4 linked regions of the Homo sapiens genome follow. The protein of the gene in region 1 interacts with the protein of each later gene in a pairwise test. Each region holds a gene or a part of one and is shown on either strand. Other genes may lie near its edges. The genes, in order: CARD10, C8orf48, ZNF415 and BAHD1.

The links.
Region 2: the proteins of CARD10 (region 1) and C8orf48 interact in binary tests that used the Homo sapiens proteins (3 or more experiments, as listed by UniProt).
Region 3: the proteins of CARD10 (region 1) and ZNF415 interact in binary tests that used the Homo sapiens proteins (3 or more experiments, as listed by UniProt).
Region 4: the proteins of CARD10 (region 1) and BAHD1 interact in binary tests that used the Homo sapiens proteins (3 or more experiments, as listed by UniProt).

Annotation. Positions count from the first base shown.
Region 1 is NC_000022.11:37,501,847-37,509,874, forward strand, and holds part of CARD10 (caspase recruitment domain-containing protein 10), read right to left. Parts: intron 6,837-8,028; coding exon 6,681-6,836; intron 6,109-6,680; coding exon 5,983-6,108; intron 4,538-5,982; coding exon 4,346-4,537; intron 2,924-4,345; coding exon 2,789-2,923; intron 2,456-2,788; coding exon 2,340-2,455; intron 1,368-2,339; coding exon 1,339-1,367; intron 880-1,338; coding exon 756-879; intron 1-755. UniProt on the Homo sapiens protein: Scaffold protein that plays an important role in mediating the activation of NF-kappa-B via BCL10 or EGFR.
Region 2 is NC_000008.11:13,562,266-13,569,360, reverse strand, and holds C8orf48 (uncharacterized protein C8orf48), read right to left. Parts: upstream 2,493-7,095; 5' UTR 2,370-2,492; coding exon 1,410-2,369; 3' UTR 1,073-1,409; downstream 1-1,072.
Region 3 is NC_000019.10:53,115,477-53,123,504, forward strand, and holds part of ZNF415 (zinc finger protein 415), read right to left. Parts: coding exon of another isoform or gene 8,025-8,028; intron 7,268-8,024; coding exon of another isoform or gene 7,201-7,267; coding exon 7,186-7,200; intron 7,141-7,185; exon of another isoform or gene 6,943-7,140; coding exon of another isoform or gene 6,928-6,942; intron 958-6,927; coding exon 837-957; intron 449-836; coding exon of another isoform or gene 405-448; exon of another isoform or gene 380-404; coding exon of another isoform or gene 228-379; intron 1-227. UniProt on the Homo sapiens protein: Involved in transcriptional regulation. Transcriptional activity differed among the various isoforms. All isoforms except isoform 3 seem to suppresses the transcriptional activities of AP-1 and p53/TP53.
Region 4 is NC_000015.10:40,457,272-40,465,299, reverse strand, and holds part of BAHD1 (bromo adjacent homology domain-containing 1 protein), read right to left. Parts: intron 6,850-8,028; coding exon of another isoform or gene 6,836-6,849; coding exon 5,404-6,835; intron 3,389-5,403; coding exon 3,006-3,388; intron 1,440-3,005; coding exon 1,280-1,439; intron 830-1,279; coding exon 753-829; intron 1-752.

The sequences.
Region 1 (8,028 bases):
GTACAAGCCAAAGTCCACACTTTCCCAGCCTGACTCAGGAAGCCTTGACTTTCGCCCTTCCCCCTCGCTCCTCCTCCACAGTCACCGGATGCTCTCCCTACCTGCCCTCTCCTCACAGCTGAGTTCCAAGACCACAATGGCCGTGCAGCCCCCGCTCTGCCCCACCCCTCCCTTAGATACACTGGCAGGTGTGAACAGCGGCCACGCACCGGCCACACTAACAGCACGTCGCCTACAGTGCACTCTGCACTAATGGGCTTTGTGACTCCTGTTATGGACCTGTGGCTGGCCCGGTCACAGGGGCTCCTGAGGTGACCCAAGCCCACCCACAGCATGAAACTTTGCTGGGTGGCTCAGTCCCAGGGACTCAGAGCCAAGGGACTGACAGGCAGGACATTGGGACGAGGACAGCTTGTAAGTGACAACTATTACTAAGCACCTGCTACATGCCTGGCAGAGCTGGGTGCTTTGCTTCTGCGAGCAGAGCCCTCAAAAGACCTCCATGCAAAAAGGGTCATCATCTCCCTTTAGCTACTGAGGAAATGGAGGCCCAGAGAAGTGAAGGGACCAGCCCAAGTCACAGGGACGATCAAGAGCGGCAGCAGGATTGGAATCCAAGGGCTGCCAGTGTCTACAGATCTTAATCTTCCAATAGTTGCATAAAACAGGGGCGAGGCAATTGCTCCTCCCACCTCACTCCTGTTCCCCTCTCAAGCAATCACCCCAGCTCCACCCACTGCAGGCAGCTACAGTACCTGTTGAGGAAGTCCAGGCCACAGCCCCGAGCCAGGAGGCCTTCCGGCTTTCCCAAAGGCCACACGCTGTCAGAGGATGAGGACGAAGAGAGGCCAGGGGACCAGGGCTTAAGTGTCACACTCCCTGGGGAAAAAGAATGAGGTTCAGGGATCTGGCACTGGGAAACAGGGATGGCCAGGGTCCATGACAGGGACTGACCCCCCTCCAGCCCAGAGAGGCCTTGGCAGGTTTGAGGCCCCAGGAGCACATCAGACCCACTGGGCTCAGAGATAGGTCAGGGCCCACCAGGCTGACCCCGCAGTTTCCCAGAAGAGGGTGAAAGGTGGCCCAGAACTGAAGAGCCTCGTACATCACAGCCGGGAACAGGAGTGAGGCCCAGGACTGGGCTCGGGGTGAGAGGCTGGAACCAAAGTCCCCAGGGTCCTCCCAAGCACAACCTTCCTGCCTGGCAGGGGCCACGGCGGGGCTTCAGGGAAGGGGATGCAGGCCAAAGGTAGCGCAGGTGGTGCAGGCTTCAGGTGGGCTGCAAAGCCACCTCCCCCGACCAGAGGAGCCCTCCCCACGGAACTCAAGGGCTGTTACCTGTGATGTCTGACATGCTGCTGAAGGATCTGGGCAGAGAGAGGGCAGGGAGGGGGCAGGAGGTGAGGCACAGTGGGCACTCTGCCCCGCTCCCTCCTCCTGCCCCCACACCAGATAAATGTCTCACAGCCCCCAAGCAAATGCAGGCTAGACTCAAGGCAGGGTCCCAGGTACAGGGCACCCATGCCACCTGGCTCCCCTAAACTCCCAGGGTAAGAAGTTAATGTCCTGGCCTCTGTCCAATGTTGTTCCACCTACAATGCCCTGGCATGCCCTTCAAAGCCAGCTCTTTCAATGCCACCTCCTCCTGGAAGCCACCCCTGATCTCTCACCCCTCACCTCACCCTCACTTGCCACCTTTGTGGTTTGTGACTCCCAGGTACGCCTCCTAAATTAAACCATGACCTCCTCATCAGACACCTCCTTGGGACAGATTTACGCAGATCAAGGCCATACTGACCACAGCCTCCCAGGGCCCAGCCTCTCACCAGTAAAGGAATAAATCAAGGGCTGCTTACAGGGGAAAAGCAGTGACAAGGATCGCGCCCCAGGAGGCAGGCTATCTCCCGCCCTTGGTCTTGCCACCAGAGGGTGCGCCTTGGTTTTTCTGGTCCCTATTTGCTGCTGATGCCCAAACCTGGGGCCTGGCTTTCTTGCCGGAGGTCCCTGATACCTTGAAACATTCTCCACGCCCCCTAGTCCTGAACCATCAAGCTTCTCCTTGGGTATAGGATCTTCAAGGCTTGACCCCCAGTGACCCTCCTGCCAGGATGCTTGGCTAGGACTGAGTTCGCTCTGCCCATCGGCCTTATCTTAAGCCTGACCTTGGTCGCCCCTGTGACTCACAGGACCTGGGTTTCCAGAGCTCCAGCCATCTGAGGGCAATAAAGGGAAGTGACTGCCTGGACCTGACTTTGGCATTGCAGATTCTGGGAGGTGGCTGTTCGGGAAACGGCAGCCCCACCTCCCTGGGTGTCTACTGCTATCCCCAGCCATCTCACCTCTTAGGGGGTGCGGGGTCTTCCTCACGCTGCCGGCGGAGGATGGAGCCGGCACTGGGGGGGAAGGGCAGGATGGAGAGCCGATTGATCTCCTTTTCACTGTCTGTGGCTTCCTCCTGCAATGCCATGACAGGGCCTGGGTCACCCCCACTGCCCAGCACCATCCCAGTCCTCAGCACACCTGGTTTGTGCCCATTCCACAAATGAGAAGTAGGGCCCAGAGCAGAAGAGCGGGCTCTGCAAGATTATAGTGTGCGGGTGGCTCCCCACGCCTCCTGGCACCTATGCCTGGCAAGGAAATGGTTCTGGGTGAGCTTCAGTAAAGTACTTGGCCTCCCTGCGCCTCAGTGTCCTCACCTGTGAAATGGATCCTTCAGAAAGCACTCTCCACATTAGTAATAATGCTATAGCAGTGTCCCCCCTTATTTGGGATGGGGCAGTTGTCTTACCGAGTTGTGAGGCTCAGGTCCCCCCATGACAGCTGCCTCCCCAGTTGCTTCTGGGCCTCCCAGAGGGGAGGGGAACTCGCTCAGGCTCCAAGTGCTGCTGAGGTTGGAGCACAGGGAATGGGAGGAGGCACAGGCCTGGAAGAGGGAGAGGAGAGGAAGGAGGTGAGCAGTGCTAGGCCCACGTCAACCACAGTCCTTTACTGAGCACCTGCCATGTGCCAGCACAGGGACAGATCCCTGTCCTCAGGGAGCTCACAGCCTAGAATGGGAGATAAACTGTAAACCAGCAGACATGTGAACAAAATAGCCCCAAGCTGAGACAATAGCAGAAGGAAGGTGCCCAGGGCATGGAAAACACACAAAGACCCCACCCAGCCTGGGAGTCCAAGTACTCTCCAAAGAAACTGTGGTTTGAACTGAGAACTCAAGGGTATAGAGGCGCTAAGTAGGTCAAGCTGGGATGGTCCAGGCAGATCAACAGCATGTGCAAAGGCCCTGAGGCAGGACTGTGATGCATTCCAGTTGAAAGACTGGAACCCACAGAACCAGGCGAGAGGACAAGAGGAACCCCACCCGCAGGGCCTCTTGGCCATGAAAAGGGACTCTGTCTTTACCAAACAGCAAAAAAGCCACTGGGGGTTAAAAAAAAAAAAAAGTCTTGGATTAATGCTGACTTTTCCTATATTCCTCCAGGCCCCAGTGCTTCAAACACCAGGCCTGCGGAGCTCACTGTCAGGCAACTCAAAATAAGAAAACGCAGGCTGGGCGTTCGCACCTCTAATCCCAGCACTTTGGGAGGCTGAGGCAGGAGGATCCCTTGAGGTCAGGAGTTTGAAACCAGCCTGGCCAACATGGTGAAACCCCCATCCCTACTGAAAATACAAAAAAAAACTTAGCTGGGTATGGTGGCAGGCACCTGTAGTCCCAGCTACTAGGGAGGCTAAGGCACGAGAATAACTTGAACCTGGGATCCAGCCTGGGTGATACAGCAAGATTCTGTCTCAAAAAAAAAAAAAAAAGGAAAAAGCAGAGCTCCCGGCAGCAGCCTGAGGACCACGATCCAATTTACAGTGGGTCTGGGACTCCAGCTCCAGTGCTAGCTGGCTGTGTGGCCTTGGGCAAGCCCCTCACCCTCTCTGGGCCCTGTGCGATGAGAGGATTAGACCAGCTGGTCTCTGAGGGATGCTTAGGCCCATGTTAGTCCTGACTAGCTGGTCTCTGAGGCCCAGGTTTTGCATTCTAACATGCACACAGGCACTCAGGCAGCCAGCCTTCCCCAGTTAAATGCAAAGACCAGCTCCAAACTATTCTTAGTGTCCCAGAAGCAACCCCAGAAACTCAGAGACCAACATGCCCCTCCGCCTGCTCACCAGCCCACACCCAGCCCAGCCTGGGTTCAAGTTCCCGCCCCTAACTGAGGACTCTTCCCACTTCCCCCAAGCTTCCTCCCCTGGCTGAGGTCTCCCACCAGGGCCGGCACGTTCCCAGCCCTGGCCAAGAGCTCCTGCCAGGACCCCAGCCTTCCTGCCAGGACCTCCACAATCTTGACCCGCTCACCTTGAGGCAGGTGCCACCCTGGGCCCGCTGCAGCTGAACCTCCAGCAGAGCCTTGGTGCCCTCCAGGCTGGTGAGCGTTGTCAGCAGCTCATCCCGCTCCGCCTCCAGGCCCCGCACCTGCTTGCGGTACTGGTCCTTCTCGATGAGGCTCTGTGAGTACTGCAACTGGATCCGGTCACGGCTCTGGATGGCCTAGGGTTGGGGGAGGGGAGGCAGCAGCTGAAGGAGCCACCTTGGCCCAGCTTTCCTGGCCTATGACTTGGAGAATGGGGACAGTAAGGAGAATGGCAGCTATCACTTACTGAGCACTGTGTGCCGGGCCCTGAGCTAAATTATCAGCTCATTTAAATATCTTCACACTAACTGGCTAAGTTAGATACTATTAATATCATTATTCTCATTCTGCAGACTGGGGAAACCAAGCCAGGAGCGACAGAGCTGGGATTCAAATCGGGCAGTCCATCTGCAGAATCCAGGCTCTCACCATTTCACCAAGAACTGAAAACTTTTCCACGAGACCTGCTGTGTGCCAGGGGCTTCACTCCCAGCATCCCAGTCAGTGGAGAAGCCAGGAGTCAAACCCAGCCCACTGCATCCACAGTGAAGACCAGGGGCTCCAGAGCTGGGCCCATGGTCCAGACCTGTCACCCATGCCTCAGAGAGAGCCGGGGGCAGCCCCATAAAATGCAGATTCCTGGGGCCCACCCCAGACCACCTGAATCAGAACGTCCAGAGAATGAAGCCCCAAATTTGCACTTTCAAGCTTGCCAGGGGATTCTGAGGGCATTTCTAATATGCAGACTTCGGCTGGGCATGGGAGCTCATGCCTTTGATCCCAGCACTTTGGGAGGCTGAGGCAGGTGGATCAGTTGAGCCCAGGAGTTCAAGACCAGCCTGGTCAATATAGTGAAACCCTGTCTCTACTAAAGATACAAAAATTAGCCAGGAATGGTGGCATGCCTGTAATACCAGCTACTTGGGAGGCTGAGGCAGGAGAATCACTTGAATCTGGGAGGCCTCAGTGAGCTGAGATTGCACCACTGCACTCCAACCTGGGCAACAGAGCTAGATTCAGTCTCAAAAAGTAATAACAACAATAATATACAGACTTCAACTCCTCTAGTGGGATTCACACCTGGTTAAGGACAAAAACCTCCTGCCCTTCCCCGCTGCAGATGGAACCTCACACAAGGAGGCTCGGGGGCCTGGTGGCACTGGCCGGAGGTCCTCAGCCCACCCCACAACCTTGGCAGGAGACAAGGGTCATAGTGCCCAGGGACTGAAAGCCAAAACTTTTGAGAATTTCTTCATCGGCTTCTATTTGTAAGCACTCCCTCTGTGCTGGCCTTGTCTTTGAGATGGACAGAACAAGGGATTCAAAAATGAAGACACCAGGACCAGCTTCTGTAACTGCCACAGGAGCTCAGATGAGGCCAGTGGGTCCAGGGTGTAAGGCTGGTATCTCAAGGGCTCCAGGTCTCCTGTCTGGTTCCCCCAGCCTTTGTGCCCCGTCCTAACCCAACAGGGAGCGGCTAACGTCTCTTTCTACCATTCTAGTCCCCTCCATTGCTCCTTGTCTCCTCCCATATGGGAAGCAGCAACTGGCCCAGGGCCTCGTACACGCAGGCTGGGCTCACCTGGTCTCGCTCCTTCTCAATCTCCTCCAGTTGGGCCAGGACAGTGGCCATGCGGTGCTTGTACAGGTCACAGTCCTTCTGCAGCGTGCGGTGCTTGAGCCGCAGGTCTTCCATCTCCTGCAGGTACTGAGGGTGGCACGGGGCGGGGTCAGACCACAGGGCTGGGGACCATGAGAAAGCTAACCAGCAGGTGCCCAGGAGGGCCAGTGAGAGACGCTCACCAACAGTCTGAGACCCAATAACAAGTCCCCTCCTGCCCAGTGGAGTGGTCTGAGCCACTGACTTTACCTCACAGGCCCTCAACTGCCTAATCTGTAAAACGAGAAGAATGATCATCATTTCACCCATCCGGCCACCCTTGGCCTCCCCACTCAAACTGCAACCGGCCCCTTCCCCAGCTCTGCATCTCCCACGGTGCTCATCGCCTTTGACTACATGAAATAGCTGACGTGGGACTGTGTATCTCACATACTGCCAGTCTCCCCTGCTGGAGTTCCCCCTCAAGGAAAAGGCACCTTTGTTTTGCTCACTGCGGCATCTCAAGCGCCTAGAAGGGTGCCTCCGTCAACATCTGAGAACAAATGAATGCAGTTCTCAGCGCGGCGCCTGCGTCAAGCAGATGCTCAGGGAAGGCGTGAGCACACAGGCCCTGCCTGACACCCTCCCGCACAAGGGGCAGGGCACGGGCAGGGCCCCACCTGGTCGCGCAGCTCCTCGGCCCACTGCAGCTCCCCCTGCACGGCATGCAGCTTCTGGCACAGCTCCTGCCTGCTGTCCTGCGCCTCCCGCCAGTCATGCTCTAGGATGTCCAGCAGGATGCGCTCGGAGCCCGGGGCCCCCGGCCGGCTCGCCTCCTGGGGATCACAGGGCAGGGCCACCTCAGGGTCTGGCTAGGGGCCCACCCTGGGTGTGGGAAGGAAGGGGACACGCAGCTCTCAGCCCTCCAAACCCACCTGACCAGCTCTGCCATGCTGGCCCGGGGCCTCGACCCTCTCTGGATCTCTGTCTCCCCATCGGCAGAGTGGGTGTGGCCCCACAAGCCCTACCCACCCTCCAGGGAGTATCTGGGGTACAAGTAAGCTAATAAGCTAAGTGGAGAAGGGTGTGACTGGACAAGTTCACCCAGGATTATTCCTAAACAAGCACCAGGCACACACTCGTGCTCTGGCCCTCACCCACCATCCAGGGCAGCAGACGGAGGCCATTCCCAAGACCTACTCCCACCCCCATGACTAGGGGTCTTCAAGGGGCTGAGCCTGGCCCATACAGGTAGACCCTGGGCCCAAGATCTTGCCCCCAGACCCACACCCCAGCCAAGTGCCCCAACCCCATGAAACACACTGGCTCTCATCCCCCACTTCCTGTGTGGAACAATGGCCAGGAGGCAGGCCCATGCAGCTGCTGACCTGCCACTGACCTGCCGCAGGACACTAAGCAAGCCCTAGGGCCCCCAGGCCACACCCTCTACAAATCAAATTAAAGCTGGGGCCCTTTCCCCAGAAAAATGCTCACACTCAAAATCAGGGGGGCAGTTTTAGGGAGTTTGAGGACCTTCTGGAGGCTGCTCACACACCCTAGACCAGACAACCAGGGACAGCCACGTGCTAAGGGCCCTCAGCTCAGAGCTTCAGGCAAGAGGCTACCGGGACTCCATCCAGATCTCAGATCCCTGGTTCTGAAATCCTCAGCTTCCCAGGCCTTGGGAGGATAAGCAAACAGCAAGAGGGCCTGTTTTCCGGGTCTGACCCCCACCCCCACTCCATGTCCACGAGCCCTGGCCCTAGTACCTGCTGCAGGCCCTCCTGACCTCCCCGCAGCCTGTGCCCATGAACGCTGGCCCTGGTACCTGCTGCAGGCCCTCCTGACCCCCCCTCAACCCCCATGGCCACGAGGCCCAGCCCTGGTACCTGCTGCAGGTCCTTCTGACCTCCCCCGACCCCCATGCCCATGGGCCCCAGCCCTGGTACCTGCTGCAGGCCCTCCTGACCTCCTGCCAGCCTGTGCCCACAAGCCCCAGCCCTGGTACCTACCGCAGGCCCTCCTGAC
Region 2 (7,095 bases), on another chromosome or scaffold:
GTATCTTTATACATAAATGAAGGTCTTAACGCAAAGAGTAATACTGAAGTACAATACTAAAACTCTTCTGTGCTGATTTTTGCAAACAAATTTCTTTTTCACTGAGATAATTCAGGTGTTGGACATGTAGAAAAGTGATCTCCAGGTAATGCCACTAATTCCATGGTTTTATATTTTTATAGAGGAAATAGATAATAAATGGCTTCTCAGAATGCCATCTAACATTTTTCTCCATAAATGTGTTTTCAAAATGCCATGGTATTCCTTGTGGAATAATACTGTTTCCTCATTACATAAATTTGGATGAACAACAGAAGGTTCATAAAATCTTCACGACCAAAATGGCTATCTAGATAATTTGTTTAAGCGTTCTTCTCTCAAAACTCAACACCTAACCCCAGCTTTACTTCTTCTTCCCCTTACAGCTAAATATTTCAAGGAGTACCCTATATCCATTCATTATTTACTTACATTTTTCCTCAATCTATTTTGTCTGCCCCATTTGTATAAGTGAAATGGCTTTTGCTAAGGTCAGCAGTGCCCAATACATGACTAAATCATCTTTACATGGCTTCTCTGTTGATTGATGTGGTTAGACAACTATCCTTCTTTAAATATTCATTCCTTAGCATCTATGACACTATACATTCCTGATTTCCTTGATCCACTTGATAACTTTTTTCACAATCTTTTCTGCAGGTTTATTTTTCTCTACTTAGCCATTAATTGGCATTTCTCAAGAGTTTGTATCAACCCTGCTTCTCTTCTTATTCATTTCCAAAAACGCTTGACAATCTACGGCTTCAACTTCCAGCTATATGCCATTGATCCCCACCCTTCCCCCAGTCCTACCCCAATTTATTTTGCACCTCTAGGCTATACCTTTCCTCTGAAGCGCAAAAACAAATAATCAAATGTTTCTTCAAACTGTCAATGTGTATGTCCCAAATGCACCTTATATGTCCAAATAATCATACTCTTCAACAGTTCCATCAAACATAGTCCTCTTCTGGTGTTCCTGTCTTAATGAAATTAATGATCATTCATCCGGGCGCACAAGTCAGAGCCTTAATAACATTTCAAACATCTACTATTTATTAATTCCCCATAGCCATTTGATCGCCAAAGACAGTTATTACTTTTTAAGTTTCTCTTACATCCCCATACTACTTTGCTTCTGTACCATCAACATCCTGGCCCAAACTACCAACATAGTTCTCTTGGAATTTTGTAAAAGTTTTTATAACTATTCCAACTACAACAGTGCCTTCTATAATAGGAAAAAAAAAGTGAAAGTTCTTAGTCCTCAAATCTGTGAAGGAAGCATAGTAAAGTCTTAAGTTAGTTTCCCAAGTGCCTGTAGAAATTATGGTAATTACTCAAATACACAACAAAGACATCTATCCACATTACACATTATCATTAACAATCACCAGCTCTGGTTTGATTAGAGTAAGTCGCTTGAGAAATGGCAGAGAAAATGGTAAATGACAAGCACTATTTCCATCTCGCTGCAACTTCTGCTCTGTCTCTGATCTTTCAAAACCAGAGTATCTGATATGACTTTTCTCAGTCAGTCTTTTCCAGATTATTCTGGGGTCATCTGAAAGCCTGGGAAAGTCTTGATGTGCTTCTCCAATACGGGTGAGAAAGTCTTTGGTATGAAGATGTTCATCTATTCTCTCTTGGAGTAGAAATGACTCCAGTAAAGTCTTCTTTTGTTTCAGAAAGGCAGACAGGGCCAGCTCCGCTCTTTTCCTGTTACAATAGGGACACTGATAAGATATGTGTTGCTTAGCTGCTGCCTCCTGTTTTGGCGTTGTCCTCATGTTTTTAAAGTAGATTCTGTTCAAAAGTTCATCGGGTACAGTACAACTAAAGGCATCTCTCTCTGAAGCCTCTACATCCAATCCAAGATGCAGCTTTTTATGTCTGCTGCTCGTCTTCTTCTTAGAATCCCCTCTACGATGAATCAAATTTATCTTCATGGTGCAATAAGACTGCAGGGCATTCAATTCTTCATCTGATACCCGAGTGATTTCTGTTGGAAGTTTGGTGTCTGGTTGGTGCCGTTCAAAGTTAGAGTCTTTGAGCTTGAGGTAGTTGATCCATTTTTTACTCAACTTCTTTTCATAATTTTTATAGTCCAAAAGCTCAGATTGTGTGTCTCCTTGTTCCAAGCTTGGAGTCTGCTTTTCCCTCTCCAGTTTGCTCCCAGAGGTCAGGGGCGAGGACTGCCGTCCTCCAGAGGAGCTGAATGAGCTGGAAGTCTGTACCTCATCAGTAGAGTTCTTCAAAGTCTCAGTCTCATCAGAAAGGTTTGCAAGAGCACTTTTGTCCGTTTGGGCCAATTCTGGGCAGATGGCCATCACAATGCATCAGGCTCGGCTCCTCATCTCCTTTGCCCAGGTTAAGACTGGCTCAGGAACCCGTCAGGAGCTGACCCCTCCGGGAATGGATCTCAATGCCATCAGCTCTGCGGAGGTCGTCTTCCGGGAGACGCCTTCCCAGCTGTCTTGGCAACGCGGGCCGCTCATGCGCAGTGACTGGCCACCATGCGGCGTCCCGCCTTTTCCTCCGCGCTCCCCAGCGCCCACTGCGCTTGCGCTGCTTGCGCCGGGTTGGCGATTTTGCCCTGTCTTCTGCACTCCTGCTTCTCTTTGGTGCTAAAGTCGAGTAGTCAACGGGAAAACCTTGCAAACTCTGTTTCCCAGGGGTCAGACAGGTGGCACACGTGTGTGAGACCAATAGAGTTAGGTGGCCTGTGACAAATCCGAACGTGTACGCCCGCCTAAATGCATCTAGATTTAAAAATCAAGCAAAACGCGCTGGACAAGATGCACAAGCAAAAACTTGTCTGCAGTGTTTATAGCCAAGAGACACCTCCTTGTAGAGCATGTCTTTGGGGAAAAGTCAAAATACAGAAACCATTCTGTAAGAAGTAGTGTTCTGTGCTCCAGCATTCTGAGGACCTCGAAGTTTGGGCGGGGTCGGGGGTGGGGAGCAGGGGCGGGGGAGGACCTTAATTTTCCAAATCAGTTTCTCTGGCCTTTTGTCCATACAGGTCCCCTCTGGCTAGCATATCCACGCCCGTCCTCACTCTTAATATCGTTAATTTATCCTCCTCCTCCGAGTCCCATTTCCTCAGGAAGGGCTTAATACCCACCCCTGCCTTAAACTCTTTCCAGCATTTTTTTTTAAATAGTGTCCAACTATGTGATTGTATGAGTATCTGATTATGAAGGCTGAAGGCAGAAATCATGTCGGTGTTGCCGACTAGTATGAGCCCAGCAATCAGCAGACACATAGCAGGTGTTCAAGAAATCTCTGTTGAGTGAATGGCTATGGAACAAATAAATCTTACCTTACACACGTCCAGAGGATTTGGAGAAATAAGTACTATAAGTTCAGGGAACTCTAACCTTTTTTCTAACTGAATCCCCAAACTTAGGCTATTACACAGGATATATTTTTTATTAATGGATTCATTTAAAAAACACAGTAGAGTTTTATTAATTATCGTGAGAAATTATAAAATGTTAACTCTAGAGATGGACTTTTCCTAGGTTATAATAGTTCTTGAGTCTAGGACTTAGTCAATGTCTAGGATAATTTTAAGAGCCTAGACACCCTTCTTTCTCAGTTTTGTCTCTCTCTCTCTTTCTTCCTGTGTTTCTTGGGGATTGGGGGGTATTATTCAGGTCTAGCCAGATATATTCCCCAAATGTTCATTCTGGCAAAAAGTGAAAGTCAAATATTCAAAAAGCATCTCTCAAGTATATGAGCCAGCTTCCTGTTGAAGATAAGGAGACTCCAACTTCATTTATTCAACCCAAATTTTATTTTATCATATAATGGTAGTCTTTAAAAAAGAGGTGGCATGTAATTTGTGAGTAACTCCAAGTAATTTCCAATAGGGCTCAATATTTTCCTTATTTATTATTTCAAATCTCTGCCTCATTCTCTGAATATTTACACATTCATATTTACACACTATTCATGTTTTAGCTATATCTTATCCATAACATTGAACAAGGGAGCTATACTTAAAATAAAATCTATCTGTGTCTTCTAACATGCCAAATGTCTGGGGTAATCTGTCTTTTTTATAATCGTGTCTTAAATTTCTCTTGATTTTTAAAAATAACTTTATCCTAGAAGGAGATATATGTGGGTGGGAAATTCTATAATTAATTTCCTTGTAATATTCAGCGTGACCCAGTGGACAGTTTTACATTCTAGTAAGTGTGTTATCTAAGGAAGAAAATTTCTCAACAGTACTATATTTATCAAATAAGATTCATGAAAACACAGGTCAAAGTTTGATTTTAAACAAATATGAAGAGTAATAGTTTTCCTTTGGAAATCTCAATCTTCTTGCCATCTCTCAGGGGCTGTTGGGAATGTCAAAATGCTTTGTGGACCAAGCTGTGGCTGAAGGCTGCTTGTGGTGGGGATTGGGAGATATGAAGAATAGAAAAGAGAGTCCAGTCAGGCTCTCTTGGCCTAACCTTGCTATGCCCCTCCTGTTACTGTTCTGCAGCTACTTTCTCTTCTTCCTAGTTCCTATCAGAGAGCAGGGCCAAGGGTCTTCTCCCAGCTTTTTCCTTAATGATCAAGAATGCTTTGCAGCTATAAGGCCAACCCCAGAAAGAGGAAGTCAAAACAAATTCATGATTCCCCTTCTCTCTTGCTTTCCTTTCCTATGGAGGGAGAAAAGCAAACTTTCAGCATCTGTCACTCTGGCAAGCAATTCTCCCCCCAGATATCATAAACGTTTCCATGATGAGTTGGCATTTGGCAGGTACCTCTTCCTGGTGGTGTGCAGTGTACAAAGTGGGAGTCTAGTTTAAGTATAAGAGAGACTACGATGACAGAGCCTTCAAAAATATTCTACCCTTTACATCAACTTCTCAAGTAACGCTGTGCTTGGTTCTGTAGATGCAGCAAGATGAAATGTTTAGCTGTTCTCCTAGGGGGCTAAGTTGAATGTGACAAGAATCTCACTGTAATGGCCATTTTTGTGAAGGAAAGAATCGTATATCACTCAAGATGAAAAATGATTTTATTTATAGTTGTTCAATTTTTTTGTGGTTCAGTACTTGTTCTTTATCTGTAAAATGTTTTTACCTCACAATTATCTCCATCTTTCTATTCTGTTTTCTGCATCTTTGGTGTTATTATCTTTTTTCTGAAATTGATTAATTGCCTTGTGAATAGCTGCCTTCTACTTTAATAGCTATTTTTTTGCAAAAGTAATAATATAGGTTTACTGCAGATTTTTAAAAAAGAAAATGATAAGCCACAAATACTGATTTTAAGCAAAAGCTACCTATATTCTGACTTCCCAAAGATAATTACTATAAACATTGATAAAGTGTTGTAATATTTTTCTTGAATTTCTTAATTAAAATCTAGATTATACTGAATTTTGGTTTTATGAACAATTTTTTCCAGTTAGTAATAAAATGAACCTTTCCATTCATTGTAAAAATTATTTTCAACATAATTTTAAAGGTGGTTTTGCATTATTTGATTCGTTTAACAAATACATTCAGATGCAAGGTATTTCTAGTTTTTTTGCTATGAAAAATTATTCCTTTAGCTAAATCTTTACATACATTTCTAGCTATATGTTTAGGATAAATTCCAGAAATCATAATTCGTGGGTCAAAATGTATGCACATTTTTAATGCTTTTGAGATCTGTTTCTCCTCTATAGATTAAATTGACAGATCCTTCAAAAATATTCTACCCTTTACACCAATTCTGCAAGTGTCACTGTGCAAGGTTCTGTGAATCAAGCAAGTCTCTTCTCCTAAGAGACTAAGTTAAAGATGCCAGGAATCTCGCTGTGAGGAGCTGATTCTTTCTGGAGGAAAGAATCTTACATCACTCATGATTTTTTAAAAATTATTTTAATTTATAGTTTCTGTACATCATTTTTTCTAGGATATAATGTTCTTTTGTCCATAAATACTTTGTTTTATATCTCTTACAAGTTAGGCCTTTTTAAAAACAGCCACATTGTGACCACATCTAGCAAGTGACGATAAATCCTTAATATCATCTAATAATTATTCTGTGTTCAAATTTATCTGACTGCCTCAAGAATGCCTTTTTGCAAGTTGAAGTGTTAGAATCAGGATCCAAACAAGGTCCACTGACTGCATTTGGCTAACGTAGTCCTCAAAGGTTTTACTTCCTAACACTTCCGAAGTACAAATAATTTTTATAAATGAAAAAGTAAAAAGGAGCAGGAAGAGAAGTTTAGTTTTCTTCTCTGTTCTTGCCATTACGTTCCCTATAGATAATCATAATTTTAGAGTTTTCGATTATCTTTCAAAAATGTTTTGAAAATATAAATACGTCTCTCATACATGTGTTCCTCTCTTGTTATAAAAACACATTGACATACTCTACACATTGCTTTATGGCGTTTTTTTTTTGTTTTTTTCTTAAAAATATATTCTAGATACCACTTTACAACAGCATATAGACATCATTCTCATTTATTTCTAAGATTGCATAGTATTTCATTGTAGAAATGTAATGTATTTTATTCACACATTTTGACGGGCATTTTGCTATTATAAGAAATCAAAATTTGCTTTGTATCTGTGGAGATATATTTTCAAGATGAATTTTAGGAATGAGATTACTATATCAAAGATGAAGACATATGTAGTTTTCTACTTACTTCCAAATCCCCCTCCACAGGCAGTACACATATGACATTTCTGCCAGCAATGTATGGGAGCATCTGTTCCCAAAAGCCTGGCCAGCAGGGTATGTTCTCAAATGTATGGATTCTTGCCAATCTAAAGGATAAGAAATGATATCTCAGCGTAATTTTAAATTGAATTCTTCTTATTAGCAGTAAGAATGAACACCATTTCATGTGCATAAAGGCCACTTACATTTCTTTTTCTTTTTATGTGTACCATATATTCTTTTACCTATTTTTATATAAATTTTGTTTTTTTCTTTTCAATTCTCAAGAGTCACTTCATATGTTGGAAATATTATTTATTTGTCTGTGACTTGGTTCCAAATAGCTCTTCTCAGTTTGTCTATTTGTCTATGCTGTGTTTT
Region 3 (8,028 bases), on another chromosome or scaffold:
TGAGCACTTCCATTTGTCTCTGTTTGAGCTGCAGCCCCCACTGGACAGCAAAAGGATCAACTATGACACGTCTCAAGAGCAGAGGGAGAAGTAGGGGAAGTTTAAAATTTCCTCTAAGAGCTCACAGGATATAAACATTTGTTTTCCTACAGAACTCTCCCACTTGCTAAGAGTTTCCAAACATAGTGTAATGGTGTGGCTTCCTCTCCCCTCATCTGAGGTCTTACCTGTTTTCACACCTTTGATCCATTCCCACCCTTTTGGTTTTCTTGCTACTCGTACTTGGCTTTCTATGGTCCAGGGCTCTTTCCTGTGCTCCCACATAGGATAATACTCTGGTCAGGAAGAGAATTTCCCGCTTATAAAATGAATGGAACATGATGTGCTGTGGCTTTTCAAGAATCTCAGCCCTTTGCTTGGATAAGAAGAGAGGCTATCACAGATGGATCTAGGAAAATATTTCACAAATTATTTCACTGAATGCCAACTCTGAATGCTTAGGGAAGACTGTAATATGCAAATATCTAGCTCCCTTCCAAGAACTACTGAATCAAAGCACAGGGGCAGAAAACAAGAAGTGAGTATTTCAGAAGTCTACCATAAGCTTTCATGGATACTTCAGCTCTGGAACCACCACTGTTGTATCATGAAGGGGTCAGAAAATCTGGAAAAAGGGGATGGTTAAACTCCAGAGTTCACATTATGGAGCTTTTCATTTCAGAGTCAACAAGGCCTCAAACTCAGTCAGGTAATGCAGGGGCTCCCAAGAGGCACACAAGGGAAAATGGAAAGATACCAAGGGCAGATTTTGACTTCTGGAAGAAAATTATCCTCACCCAGGGAGACCAGGTTCCTGTAGTTCTCCAACATCACATCCCTGTATAAAGTCCTCTGTGTAGAGTTCAGGCATTTCCACTCATCTTGAGAGAATTCGATGGCCACGTCCCTGAATGTCAACTGTCCGTAAAATAATAAACACATTTCACCAAGAGGTTATGAAGGGAGTTACCATCTTCACACAAAATAAGAATAAAAGAGAATTTAAGTATAGATTTAATTGAAGTGTGTGTTCTGATAAATCCACACTAAGGTATTTTTGAGTACATATCTCTCCCTAATTGTGGTTTTTTTTCTCTCTTTTTTTTTTTTTTTGGTTTGAGACAAGGTCTCGCTCTGCTGCCCAGGCTGAAGTGCAGTGGCATGATCATGGCTCACTGCAGACTCAATCTCCCAGGTTCAAGTGACCCTCCAACCTTAGCTTTCCAAGTAGCTGGACTATAGGCATGTGTGTACAAAGTACATTTGAAAACTTCAACAATGAACTAGGGATCAAGCAAAAGAAAAAATTTCAGAACTTGAAGACAGGTCTTTTGAAATAAACGAGTCAGACAAAAATAAAGAAAGAAATAAAAAAGAATGAACACAGCCTATGTGACATATGGGGCAGGCACCATAAGGTGACCAAATATTTGAATTTTTGGTGTCCCAGAAGGTGGAGAGAAAATCAAAAAAGATAGAAAGCTATTTAACAAAATAATAACCAAAAACTTCCTAAGTATAGTAAAAGGTTTAGATATCTAGATACAGGAATTTCATAGATTCTCAAAGAGATACAATCCAAAAATGTCTTCTTGGCACATTATAGTCAAACTGTCAAAAGTCAAAGAAAAAGAAAGAGAATTCGGCTGGGCGTGGTGGCTCACGCCTGTAATCCCAGCACTTTGGGAGGCCAAGGTGGGCAGATCACCTGAGGTTGGGAGGTCGAGACCAGTCTGACCAACATGGAGAAACCCCATCTCTACTAAAAATACAAAACTAGCCGAGCGTGGTGGTGCATGCCTGTAATCCCAGCTACTCGGGAGGCTGAGGCAGGAGAATTGCTTGAATCTGGGAGGTGGAGGTTGCGGTGAGCCGAGATCACACCATTGCACTTCAGCCTGGGCAACAAGGGCGAAATTCCGTCTCAAAAAAAAAAAAGAAAGAAAGAGAATTCTAAAAAAAAACAGCAAGAGAAAAGCATCTAGTCACTTATAAAGGGTGCTCCATAAAACAGGAAATTTCTCAATAGAAACCTTACAGGCCAACAGAGAATGGTATGATACATTAAATGTGCTGAAAGAAAAAAAAACCCTGCCAGCCAAGGATACTATACTCAGCAAAATTATCCTTCATAAAAAGGAGAAATAGTCTTTCCCAGAGAAGCAAAGCCTGAGGGAATTCTTCACCACTAGACTGGCCCTACAAGAAATGCTTAAGGGATCCCTACATCTAGAAGCAAAAGGACAATATTGGCCGTCATGAAAACACACAATACTATAAAACCCACTGTTAGAGCAAACATGCAAGTAAGGAAAGGAGTCAAATGTAAATGTTACTATTATAGAAAACCACCAAACCACAATGAAAAACAATTAGAGAAAGGAGCAAACATACAAAACAACCAGAAATCAATTAATAAAGTGACAGTAATAAGCCCTCGCATATCAATAATGAACTTTATGTAAATGGATTAAACTTTCCACATAAAAGATATAGACTGGCTAAATTGATACAAGCGTGTAACCCAACTATATGCTACCTTTAAGAAACTCATGTCAATGTAAAGACACAAATAGACTCAAAGTGAAAATATGAAAAAAGGTATTATATGCAAATGAAACCAAAAGCAAGCAGAAGTACCTCTACTTCAATCTAACAAAATGAATTTTAAGTTAAAAACAGTAAAAGAGATGAAAAAGGTCATTATATACTAATAAAGAGATCAATTCAATAAGAGGAATATAACAATTCTAAACATATATGCACCCAACACTGGAGCATCCAGACATATAGGGCGAATATTATTAGATTTAAAGGGAGAGACACAATCCAAAAATAATAATAGTTAGGGATTTCAGCATTAGACAGCTGATTTAGACAGAAAATTAACAAAGAAACACTGAATTTAAACTGCACTTTAGACTAAACAGATCTAAGAGATATTTACAGAACATTTCATCCAACAAGTACAGAATACACATTCTTTGCATCAGCGCATAGAACATTCTCCAAGACAGACTACATATTAGAACACAAAACAAGTCTCAACACATTTTTAAAATATCAAAATCTTAGTATCTTCTTAGAACAACAATGGAATAAAATTAGAAATCAATACCATGAGAAACTTTGAAAACTGGCAAATACATGGAAATTAGACAACATGCTCCTAAATGACCACTGGGTCTAGGAAGAAATTAAGGGGGAAATTAAAAAAAAAAAATCTTGAAACAAGTAAAAATGGAAACACAATATGTCAAAACCTATGGAATACAACAAAAGCAATGCTAAGAGGGAAGTTTATAGTAATAAACACCTACTTGGAAAAAGTAGAAAAATTTCAAATAAGCCAGGCACGGTGGCTCACTCCTGTAATCCCAGCACTTTGGGAGGCCAAGGTGGGTGGATCACCTGAGGTCAGGAGTTCAAGACCACCCTGGCGAAGATGGTAAAACCCCATCTCTACTAAAAATACAAAAATTAGGCCGGGCGCAGTGGCTCACGCCTGTAGTCCTAGCACTTTAGGAGGCCAAGGCGGGCGGATCACGAGGTCAGGAGATCAAGACCATCCTGGCTAACATGGTGAACCCCGCTTCTACTAAAAAAATACAAAAAAATTAGCTGGGTGTGGTGGTGGGCGCCTGTAGTCCCAGCTACTCGGGAGGCTGAGGCAGGAGAATGGCATGAACCCAGGAGGCGGAGCTTGCAGTGAGCCCAGACCGAGCCACTGCACTCCAGCCTGGGCGACAGAGGGAGACTTCGTCTCAAAAAAAAAGAAAATACAAAAATTAGCCAGGTATGTGCCTGTAATCCCAGCTACTCTGGAGGCCGAGATGGGAGAATCGCTTGAACCAGGGAGGTGGAGGTTGCAGTGAGCCAAGATTGCACCACTGCACTCCAGCCTGGGTGACAGAGCAAGACTCCATCTCAAAAAAAAAAAAAAAAAAAAAAAAAATTTAAATAGACAGTCTAACAATGCACCTCAAGGAACTAAGAAAGCAAGAACAAATCAAACCCAAAATTAGTAGAAAGAAAAAAATAACAAAGATCAGAGCAGAACTAAACAAAATAAATACTACAAAAACACAAAGGATCAACAAAATGAAATGTTGGTTATTTTTAAAAAAGATAATATAATCTATAAACTACTAGCTAGATTAATCAAAAAGAAGACCCAATAAACAAAATCAGAAATAAAATGGATACGTTACAACTGATAACACAGAAATATAAAAGATCATCAGAGACTATTATAAATAACTACACACTAACAAACTAGAAAACCTAGAGGAAATGGATAAAATCCTGGACACGAAGCACCAAGACTGAATCAGGAAGATTCAGAAAACCTTAACAGACCAATAATGAAATTTAATCAGGAATAAAAAGTCTCTGAACAAAGAAAAGTCTGGGACCAAATGGCTTCACTGCCGAATTCTATCAAACTTTCAAAGAAGAACTAAGACTGATTCTCCTCAAACTAAAATTGAAACGGAGGGAATTCTCCTTAACTCATTCTATGAAGCCAGCATTCCCGATATCAAACCAGAAAAGAAAAAAAAAAGGAAAACTATAGGCCGAAATCCCTCCTGAACACAGATGTAAAAATCCTCATCAAAATACTAGCAAATTGAATATTTTGCTATATTCCCAACACATAAAAATGATAAATACTCAAGGTAATAGACACTTCAAATACCATTACTTGATCATTACACATTCTATGACACACGTAACAAAATATCACATCTGCCCCTTAAATATGAACCAATATTATGTATCAACTTGAAAAAGGAGCAAGCTATCCTTGTTCCTTAATACGAAAACGTGTAAATATTCACAACTTGCAGGATAGAATACCCTAACAAAACATTTACTGACAATATTGTTCTAAAATCTCACAATGATTAAACACATTTCAACAGGGCTTGAGCTGTCTGTTCTCACAGAACTGACAATAGTGGCTCACCACTGAGACCTGTGTGAGGGTGTAAGGCTTGACAGGAAAAGGGATACTCTATATCTAAGCACTAAATATCTCTATTGAGAGTTTCACCATAAAACAAATATATACATCATGTGATGTTTAAAATAAAAGCAGCATAATACTTAATAACAATACATATAATAAGAATATGGATATATCCTCTTTAATGAAAAAGGAGTTCTGCTCTGATGTCTGAGCAAAACTGTTACCATTTTTACCTAAAATATCTGATGCCTAAGAGACCCTGCAGGAATAGCACCATCTCCGTGGTATGCAAGTGCTGAGAATGGTTTAAAAACTTGGCTGGGCGCGGTGGCTCATGCCTCTAATCCCAGCACTTTGGGAGGCCGAGGTGGATGGATCACGAGGTCAGGAGTTGGAGACCAGCCTGACCTACACGGTGAAACCCCGTCTCTACTAAAAATACAAAAATTAGCCAGGTGTGGTGGCGCGTGCCTGTAATCCCAGCTAGTCAGGAGGCTGAGGCAGGAGAATTGCTTGAACCTGGGAGGCAGAGGTTGCAGTAAGCTGAGATCGCGCCACTGCACTCCAGCCTGGGTGACAGAGGAAGACTCAAAAAAAAAAAAAAAAAAAAAAAAAGTCCTACAGCTGGCCGGGCACAGTGGCTCCCGCCCGTAATCCCAGCACTTTGGGAGGCCGAGGCAGGCAGATCATATGGTCAGGAGTTCAAGACCAGCCTGGCCAACATAGTGAAACCCCATCTCTACAAAAATTAGCCAGGCATAGTGGCGGGTGCCTGTAGTCTCAGCTACCTGGGAGGCTGAGGCAGAGGAATCACTTGAACCTGGGAGGTGGAGGTTGCAGTGAGCCAAGATCGAGCCACTGCACTCCAGCATGGGCGACAGACTGAGACTCCGTCTCAAAAAAAAAAAAAAAAAGTCCTACAATTATACTTTATTTTTGTCGTTGTTGTTGTTGACACAGAGTCTCGCCCTGTCACCCAGGCTGGAGTGCAGTGCAGTGGTGCGATCTCCACTTACTGTAACCTTTGCCTCCCAGGTTCAAGTGATTCTCCTACCTCAGCCTCCTGAGTAGTTGGGATTACAGGCGTGCGCCACCACGCCTGGCTAATTTTTGTATTTTTAGTAAAGACGGGGTTTCACCATGTTTGCTGGTCTCAAACTCCTGACCTACAATGATCCGCTCACCTCGGCCTCCAAAGTGCTGGGATTATAGGCCTGAGCCACCGTGCTCGGCCTTACAGTTACACTTTTATGTTGACTTTATGTTTCAAAGTCAATAAAGGAATAAAACGCCCTCTAGTACTGATGTCTGTATCTCAACTTTACATTCCATTCCAAGTCATTAACAGTGTGGAGTCAGAGACATACTGATATACTAGTTTTATCTGGATTACAAAATCAGGCACAAAATATATCCCCTTATTGGCTGCCTTTTCCAGGATTTACCAGGTATTTGTCTATATTAACACCTGACTTTAGGCCAGGCACGGTGTCTCATGCCTGTAATCCCAGCACTTTGGGAAGCCGAGGTGGGTGGATCACCTGAGGTCTGGAGTTCGAGACCAGCCTGACCAACATAGAGAAACCCCGTCTCTATTAAAAATACAAAATTAGCTGGTTGTGGTGGTGCATGCCTGTAATCCCAGCTACTCGGGACGCTGAGGCAGGAGAATCACTTGAACCCGGGAGGCAGAGGATTCAGTGAGCCGAGATTGCGCCATTGCACTCCAGCCTGGGCAACAAGAATGAAACTCCATCTCAAAAACAAACAAACAAACAAAAAACAAAAACAACAAAAAACATGACTTCCATGGGCAGCTTCTCTATTCCTGGGCTACGGAGAGCCGACAGTGCATCCAAATGTGGCCCCTGAACAATCCCTGCTGCCCAACAGCACTGACACCACGGGACCCTCACCCCGTCTCCATCCATGTCTGGGTGTGAGCCCTTCCCAGGACCATGCCCAGTGGACTCTTCAGAAGTTCATGTCACAGGGTCAGGGTGAGACGGAATCTCAGTAGAGATGAGAAGGACTGAGGGAAGGCACGGGTCAATGTGAGCAAACGCGTCAGGCAGGATGCTTCAGACTCAGAGAAGATTTGCAGCTCCAAGGCATTGTCTCCCACCTTTCTGAAAAGAGGGAGACAGAATGATCCACACAGAATCTTTCTTTACCTGAGTAAAAGCCATTCCTGACTCCTTTGCTCTCCTCTTCTGGGTTTCTTCCTCATGTGCCAGGAGTCTTTGGAAGTCAATGCTGAATAACAACAACAAGTGCTGTTTATTGCTTAGAAACAACACACCCCCTCTTGTGTGACAAGCACACACATACACAGGGAGGAGCTCGCCCTGTGCAAAGACGGTCCTCTGCCGCCCACTACACCAGGGTGGCCCCAGGGACAAGAAACTCCTACAGGAAAACCAATACATGAGTCTTCTGACCCCTTTCTTCAGAACTCCCTCCCCTCCTGGAGAAGCTCACACACATGCTGCAGCAGTGGGGAGGAGACCCAGCCCTGATTAAACCCCATGCAGAGCACAGCCCCCTTTCCCTCTCTGGATCCCAGGCTGGGCTCAGCCCTCAGAAATAGAGGACACAGAGCCTTGGTGTTCAGGGCTGGATATAGATTAGAATCATGTTGGGCACTGTATTATCGAGGGTGGGTCCCAACCTGTGTGAATGGGAATCTCTGGGACAGGGATGGGGGCACAAGAGGTATATCTGCAAAGTACCCCAGCACTTTCATATGAAGCCAGGGGGTAGCTCTACTCACATGTGGTCAGCCCAGCATAGCCCCCACCTTCTGACTCTATTCTCCCCTTGAGACCTTGGTGTCATCAGGATCCAGACAGTGGAAGCAGAAAGAATCAAGAGAAGCATGCAGAGGAGGTAATATGGACCAGAGGTGGGGGTGAGGGTGTAGCTGGAGTGTGAAATGGGAAGTGGGTCACAGAAGTCCCCGCTGAGAAGGTGATATTGGAACCGAGACCTGGGGAAGGAGGGGTGTTTGCACCTGC
Region 4 (8,028 bases), on another chromosome or scaffold:
TGGAAAGCACCTCATTCCCAGAGCAAGGCAGACATTAACCCCTCTGCTGGGCCTGCTGACCTGAGATGACTCCAGCAAGCTTCCCTGGAAATTCAGCCTAAGTATGCCTCACCTACTGCCTCCAGGCATTCCTCCTGAGTCCCTTCTAGGTCCCCCCCTTCTCCAGAATAGCCAGGTATCTGCTCTAGCCCCTGATTGTCACTGACCTCCCAAACCCCAGCCCTGCCTAGCGTAGGAGAGGGGAAATGTTCTTCATCTTTCCAGTTAGATGGAAAGTCCCTGCAAGGGAAAGTGAAATAAAAGGTGAGCCCAGGGCACACACAGATGGCAGTCACCTCTTTTAGCACACAGCTTGGTGGAGAGCCTATGGGGTGTTAGGAGGAGTCTTTCCTCCCCTCCCCTCCCCTACTACAGAAAATACCAAAAGTGACCAGGTATGCAGCTCCACCTCACCTTTCCTGTTTCCAGGGGAACACATCCACTTGCTCCCATTGGCACCTGCTACCTCAAGGGTTCCCTTTCTGTTCCTCTTTTTAAGACAAAGGTTATTATTCCCTTTGAAACATGAATTGGGGCAGTGTTGGGAAAAGAGAATAAATCCTGGGCCCTTTCCCAGGTTCTCTGGAGTCCAAAGTGACAAGCGCAGGGATTTGACTACAGCCCATGGCTGCCCTCCCCCTACCACGTCTTAGTGCCATAACCTTTCCCTCTGTCTCTCCTGCCCTCCCTGACCCATCTGCCAGGCAGCTCACCTCGTGCATGCTGGGACTGCGGCCTCCCTGTAAGTGCTCAGGTCTGTAATACCACAGGAGGCTCATCATCAGCTCTCCTGGAAGGACAACACAGTGGTTATGGCTTGAACTGGCAACCTGAGTTACTTAGACAGGCAGAGAGGCTGGCTGGCTGCCCTGGAGGTTCATCCAACCTCAATCCTGCAGGCTCCGGCAACCCATGTCCCCTGCCCCAGGCCAAGCATTCAGAGGCCTGGAATGCTGTTAGGCATGGAGGGAGAAGGGGGAGAAGGCACTGACAGGTGAGGTGGGGGGACAGGTGCCCAGGCTCTGCTGGCTGGAAAGGTTAATGAGCTGATCCAACCCAAGCCACAAGGTCACCCACAGCCCTCGGCAGCAGAGAGACCCCAGCCGAGTGGAAGGCAGACTCTGTGCCAGGAACACGGGGAGACTCACGCCAGGTCAAACTCCAGGCAGGGGCCAATCTGGGGACTACAGTTCTGCTGAAGGCAGCTGCCCCTTGGGTCCCCAGCCAGAGGGAGAGGTACCTGACTCGGGGTTCTCCCAGAGGGCAGAGATCTTGGCCACATAAGGTGTGGAGGTCTTTCGTGGGCCTGATTTGAGAAGGACGGTGTCCCGGACTCGGATTGTCTCCCCATGCCGCTCTACCGCCTGGTAGCTCTTTCGGATGGCTGGCTCCGGCTCATCCTAGGCAACAAACCAATGACACAAATAGGCTTGCAGAGCCACACTCAGAGTAAGGACAGAGAGAGGGAATGACATCCTTTCCACGATTTCCTCAAGATAGTCAAACCACTACCTTGGTTTTGTCAAACCACTATCCTTTTTTGGATGGGGCTGGGGAATTCTCATGGTTGGAGAAAGGATGAGAAAAGGGAATAGGGGTGGAAAAGTGGCCTGAAGCTTCTGGGGCTGAGCTCTGACCACCATACCCGACAGCTGACTCTCACTCCAAGACCCCCAGTGCTGGGTAAGTGCTCATGCTTCCTAATGGAACAAGTCTCGGTCTGAACCCTTAAACCACTGTTATAAGGGGCACAGCCTTTGACAAATTATTTAAAGTATTGCTAAGCCTCAGCTTCCACATCTGTAAAATGGGATTAATTATAGGAAGATGGGATATATACCACATAGGGTAGTGGTGAGGATTAAAGGGCATAATACTTACAAAATGCTTAGCTCAGTTCTGGCATCTAAGAAGTGCTCAATAAATTTTATGTATTTATGTATTTATTTATTTTTAGAGACAGGGTCTCACTCTGTCACCCAGGCTGGAATGCAGTGGTGCAACCATAGTTCACTGCAGCCTCAACCTCCTGGACTCAAGTGATCCTCCTGCCTCAGACTCTCAAGTAGCTGGGACTACAGATGCATGCTACCATGCCTGGCTAATTAAAAAAATTTTTTTTCTGTAGACAGGATCTTGCTATGTCGACCAGGTTGGTCTTGAACTCCTGAGCTCAAACAATCCTCTAGCATCAGCCTCTGAAAGCTCTGGGATTATATGCATGAGCCACCTTGCCCAGCCTCAATAAATTTTAGTTAATATTCTTTTTGTTTTTAATTAATTAATTTTAAAAGCCAGGGTCTCTCTGTCACCCAGACTGGAGTGCAGTGGTGCAATCAGCTCACTGCAGCCTTGAACTCCTGGACCTAAGCAATCCTCCCACTTCAGCCTCCTGGTGCACACCACCATGCCTGGCTAACTAATGTTTTTACTTTGTAGAGATGAGGTCTATATTGCTCAGGCTCGTCTTGAACTCCTGGCCTCATGCGATCTTACCACTTCCACCACCTAAAGTACTGGGATTACAGATGTGAGCCACCGCACTTGGCCTCTTTTCATCATCCGAGATGTTCTCTGTGTCACTAATTTTCTCTGCCCATTCCAACGCCCCCTATATAGACTTATCCAGAAAAGTTCTCCATTGAAAGTCCTCCACTTTACAATCCAGGGTGTAAGGGACAAAGTGAGCAGGGAGGGGAGGGGAAGACACTCACCGAGATGGCAGCCACCAGCTATGACTGTGTGTCTCCTGACCTCCCTGGGGTGTCTGGTACAGGATCAGTAGGGGGCTAGGGAAGCAAGCTGGGTGGGCCAGCATGACTGGTTCCTGGGGTACAAGTAAACTGGAGTCCCTTGTCAGCTCTCAGAGTAGCTAGAACCAGGTGCTTCTAGCACCTACCTCACTGCAGGTCATGTGTCCCCACTGCCTCCCTCCCTCTCGTCATCAGCTAAGAGCTAGCACTTACCAAGACATACACAGCCTTCTCACACGCAGCCCCAACAGGTACCCAGCCATTAGTGCGGCGGCGACGGCGGCGGCGAGGGCGTGGGCGCTGGACACGTGGCTGCTTGGGGTGGCTAGGCCTGCGGGCAGCCTTGCTCCTTGCAGTGTGCCTGCAGCTGGAGCCTGTGCGCAGACCTGACTTAGAACCGCTGGGAGGTTTGGCGCTCTGAGGGCACGCACGGGCTACTGTCTGGGGCTCCGAGGTGGGTGTCTGAAGATGGGGGACGGGCTCTGCTGCAGGTGGCACACTGGGTACAGGGCACCCCAGGAGTGGGTGGGCGGGTGAGGCTGGGTGGCCAGCTTCCGGGAGAGGAAATTCCAACTGGCCCAGGGATCTGCAGCCTTCTAGGAAAGGGAGAGAGTGGTCAGGACAGGACAAGCAGTGACCCCCATCACCCATCTGCTTTCAGAGCCTGCTCCTGTCTTAATTCTAACTGTGCAACCAAAGGCCACTGAGGTGGCCGATGGGATCAGAGGCCTTTTTATGGTGGACTGTCAGAGTGACTCTCTAAGGGGACAGGGGTGTTTCCTGATCTTGGAGATTGGCCATCTCCCCTTTTAGTCTGAAAGAGAGGTGGTTGGAACATCCTTTTTAACTCCGAACTTTTTTTTTTTTTGAGACAGAGTCTCGCTCTGTTGCCCAGGCTAGAGTGCAGTGGTGCTATCTTGGCTCACTGCAACCTCCGCCTCTCGGGTTCAAGCATTTCTCCTGCCTCAGCCTCCTGAGTAGCTGGGATTACAGGTGCCCATCACCACACCCAGCTAATTTTTTTGTATGTTTAGTAGAGATAGGGTTTCACCATGTTAGACAGGCTGGTCTCAACCTACTGAGCTCAGGCAATCTGCCCGCCTCAGCCTCCCAAAGTGCTAGGATTACAGGCATGAGCCACCGCGCCTGGCCCTGATATTAATTTTCTAAGGCTTTCATAATGCTTGGGAATAGGGGTTCTAGAATCAGCCTGGGTTCTGCCACTTACTAGCCATGTGACTTCAGGCAAGTCACTCTGCCCCTCAGAGCAACTGGCTGGTTTTCTTACGAACACATTAACTCATTTCATCCTTACAAAAACCCTGTGAGATAGGTATCATTACACCCATTTTATAGTTAAGAAAACTGAGACACAGAGCAGTTACTGACTCGCCCATAGTCACATGGCTAGGAAAGTGGGGGAGAACATTTCACTCCAGGCAGTCTGGCTTCGGAGTCTGTGCTCAATTACATGCCAAGCAGCCTCCCATATGTAAAGCACTCAGAACAGTGCCTGGTACATGGTGTTTACTGGTGTCCTTATTATTAGGGAGAGGGGATAAGGGTCTAGACTTGGGGAATGGCACAAAAAAAGAAGGAAAACCCCAAGCAGCAGCCTGTTCTCATGTCATAAGAACTCTAACTCAAGCCACAACCTGAAACAACCAGTCTGGCCAGGGCCAACTGGTCTATAAAGTTGTTTTATAGACCCCTACAAGAAAGGATGTCAGGGGAAGGGAGATCTGGAAGGTCCAGCCCTCACCTCCCCAGCAGCAGGGCAGACCTGCTGGCCAGCATGTCTCATTTCCACCCAGGAGGCAGGCAGGGAGCCTGAAGAGGCAGGTGAGGATACCTCTGCCAGTTTAGGGAAGAGAAATGATTCTGGGAGTGTCTCAACAGCCGGAGCATGGGCCTCTCAGGTGTCTGGGTCTTGTCAGGCAGGCAGACACCAAAGCTGTGGGCCCTGATCGCATTCCATCCATGTCAGGGAACTCTGCTTGTCTGTTCTCATGGTGCACCCTCTCTATCCACACCCAGCAAAGTGATGCTCAGTCTGGGCACTTCTCTTTCAATGCCTCTATAGCCAGGGCAAAGCTGCCCTGTGCAGTAGGTACCACCTACTGAGCCTGGTACCTACCACCTTTCCCATGAATGCTGAACTTGGCCAGCATGCAGAGAGTACTGGTTTCTAGAAACTAGGGAATTCTAGCTTTCCTCAAGGAGGGTAGAAGGGCCGTGAGAACAATTTGGTAAAAGTCCTAATTCCAATATCTAACCTGCTCTTCAGAGTCTAAGAACGGGTATCCCAATGAGGAGAGAAGAGAGGCCTTCCTGTGGCCTGTACCACTGCAATGCTACCTAACTGCCAGGCCAAGAATCTCCAAAGGTAGCCTGGGCAGAGCAAGGCTGTCCAGAGCTATACGGGCCCTGTTCTTGGGAATGCTCCTCGGCTTGGGGCACAGACTACGGGAGTTCTCACTTCTGAAAGCCCCCTACCTTCCAGTTAGCAGCCAGACCCCAAGGGAGACCCCTGCTCAGATCAACAGCCCAACCTCCTGGGATGCCATGTCTCCGAGACTCCCCAGTACATCTTGGGCCCAGGAAGCCTCACCTGCTGCAAAAGGCATTTTGTATGGGCAGCCGCCACAGGTAGTGCCAGCGTGGGTAACAGACAGGGGCAACACTCCGCAGATGCTGTAGCCATTCACTCCAGTGTCCTCGCTAGAGCAGTAGCGAGAGGAGCCCCAGGGAGGGTGCTGGAAAGGGGTGCCTGAGGGCACTGAGCTCGGAGCTAAGAGGAGCCCCTCCTCGTGAGGTGCAGCCACTGGGGACAGCTTGCCCTCAGGAAGCATGGGGCAGGGCGAGTAGCCCCCACACTGCAGCCCCTCTTGGCCACAGTACAGGTAGAAGCTGCCTAGTGCAGTGAGCTCAGGCCCAACACACAGGCCATTGTAGTCGGCGGGGTTGCCAGGCATCGGCAGCGGCGACAGCTGAGGTGTGGGGAAAGAGGGCTGATGCAGTTCCTGCTTAGGGGCAGGTGACTCCTCGCCTGGGCGCCCAGGCTCCGGCTTCAGAGCCGCCTGTCCACCCATCAGCAGGGGCAGGTGAGGGCGCAGCCCCAAAGGGCTCTCCAGAGCCTTGCTCAGGGGCTGATGAGATGGCTGGACGGATGGCCCACAAGGAGTTGCAGATGGCCATGGTTCATCAGGGCAGCCTTGCCAGCCAGGTGGGCCTGCAGCCTCCCCAGAGCTGGCCCCCTGCCAAGCCTTGGGATAGTTCTTGCCATTGACCTTGGGCCACTTTGGCCTCGGGGCCTTGGGTGCTGGGGGCTCAGTGGAGCGCCCATCTACTTCTGCATGGGCACGAGGCAGCCGCAGGGGTAGCTCCCGCTCCTGGCTCAGTTTTAGGAAAGCAGCTGCGTTCAGGCTAGCCAGTCTCTTGGGAGCTGGGTCTCCATCTCGGCGGGGACCTTCATCGGGTGCTGGCTCTGGAGACAGGTCCCGACTTCCTCCTCCAAGGTCCCCCAGCCGGGGCCGCTTCTTGGAGGAGGACCAGCCCCCAGTAGCACGATCACGGTCACGGCTGCGGTGGGGATCCCCTGCTCGACTGCGGCGGGTGCCTGCCAGGCTGCTGGTGTCCTCTCGCTCCAGCAGCAGGTTATTGAGAGCTTCAGCATTGAGGGAGGCCAGGCGCCGCTTGCGGGGCTGGGCAAGGCCAGGGTCTTCACTGGATGGGGCCGGGCTGGGGGGCTTGGGCAGGTCAGGCGGTAGCTCATCAGCCTCATCTGCACTCCGGGGACCGGCCACATTCTCCAGGCGAGTCAGCAGCACTTTGCAGGCCTTGGGCTTCTCAGGAACCAATGGGCGCTTACGAAGTGGGTAATTCTTGCGGCGCCCTGTGAGGTGACCTGGGCTCTCGGGCATGCCTGGCTCCACACCCTCAACCCCCTGCTCCATGTTGCTGTCTTCCATCTGCAGGGGCTCTCGGCGGCCAGTGAGGCCCGAACTCAGCATGGGAAGGGACTTTCTCCGAGTGTGTGTCATGGAGTACTTCCAACCTGCAGGACAGAAGGTGGGCAATGAGAGAAGCCCTCTCTGGCCTGCTCCTGCCTGCTTTCTCTCCCACTGCAGCCTACCCAGCCCCAGGTGCAGTGATCCTGGCCTACAACTACCCTGTCTCCAGTATGGATTTTCCTGGGACTCCCTTTCCAGAGTGTGAAGGGGCAGTGGAATCAAGCTACCAGCAGCTGTGCAAGGACTGGTTCCTCCTCTTTCCTTTTAGCCTAGGGTATCTCTGAACTAAGCCCCTGAAGAGCCTAGGGAGCAAGGCAGACCCCAGGGACAGGGGATAGGAGGAGCTGGTGGCAAAGCTCTTTGTTCTCTCCCCCTGTCCTTCTCTCACTAGATATTCATCACAGGATAGGAAGAGGCTCTGAAGACAGAGCCTCCCAAGATGGGGGACTGGGTGGTAGAAGTCCATTTATTCTTTCTTCTTTTTTTCTTTTTTTGAGAGACGGAGTCTCGCTGGAGTGCATTGGTGAGATCTTGGCTCACTGCAAGCTCCGCCTCCCAGGTTCACGCCATTCTCCTGCCTCAGCCTCTCGGGTAGCTGGGACTACAGGTGCCCGCCACCACGCCCCGCTAAATTTTCTTTTGTATTTTTAGTAGAGAGGGGGTTTCACCGTGTTAGCCAGGGTGGTCTCGATCTCCTGACCTCGTGATCTGCCCGCCTCGGCCTCCCACAGTGCTGGGATTACAGGCGTGAGCCACTGCCCCCGGCCAGGAGTCCATCTATTCTTCCAAAAGTATAACCAAGGCATTAACAATCCCCTCCCCAAACGCAGGGCTTCTGAGGTTGGCCACAGGAGGACAAGAAGACAGACAGTGAAGAGCTGAGATGGGGACCCTGCCTGCTGGGCCATGAAGGCAAAGTTCAGTCTCTGAGGACTCCTCCCCTGGCATATAAAGCAAGACTGCCACAACCTGGGTCTAGCTGGAAAAGCTCTATCAAGGGTGAAGGCCTGGCTTTGAGGGGCCCATGGTGGAGAGGTCTCAGCTTTGAGGGGCCCATGGTGGAGAGGTCTCAGCTTTGAGGGGCCCATGGTGGAGAAGTCTCATTTGAACTTTGGTTCAAATTCCAGGCAAGAGCAGCCCAAAGGGTGCCAGTACCCAGGGCAAGGGTAACAGTAAGGCCAGGATCAGCATATTCCTGGGGGTAGAGAAAACCCAGGGACGGT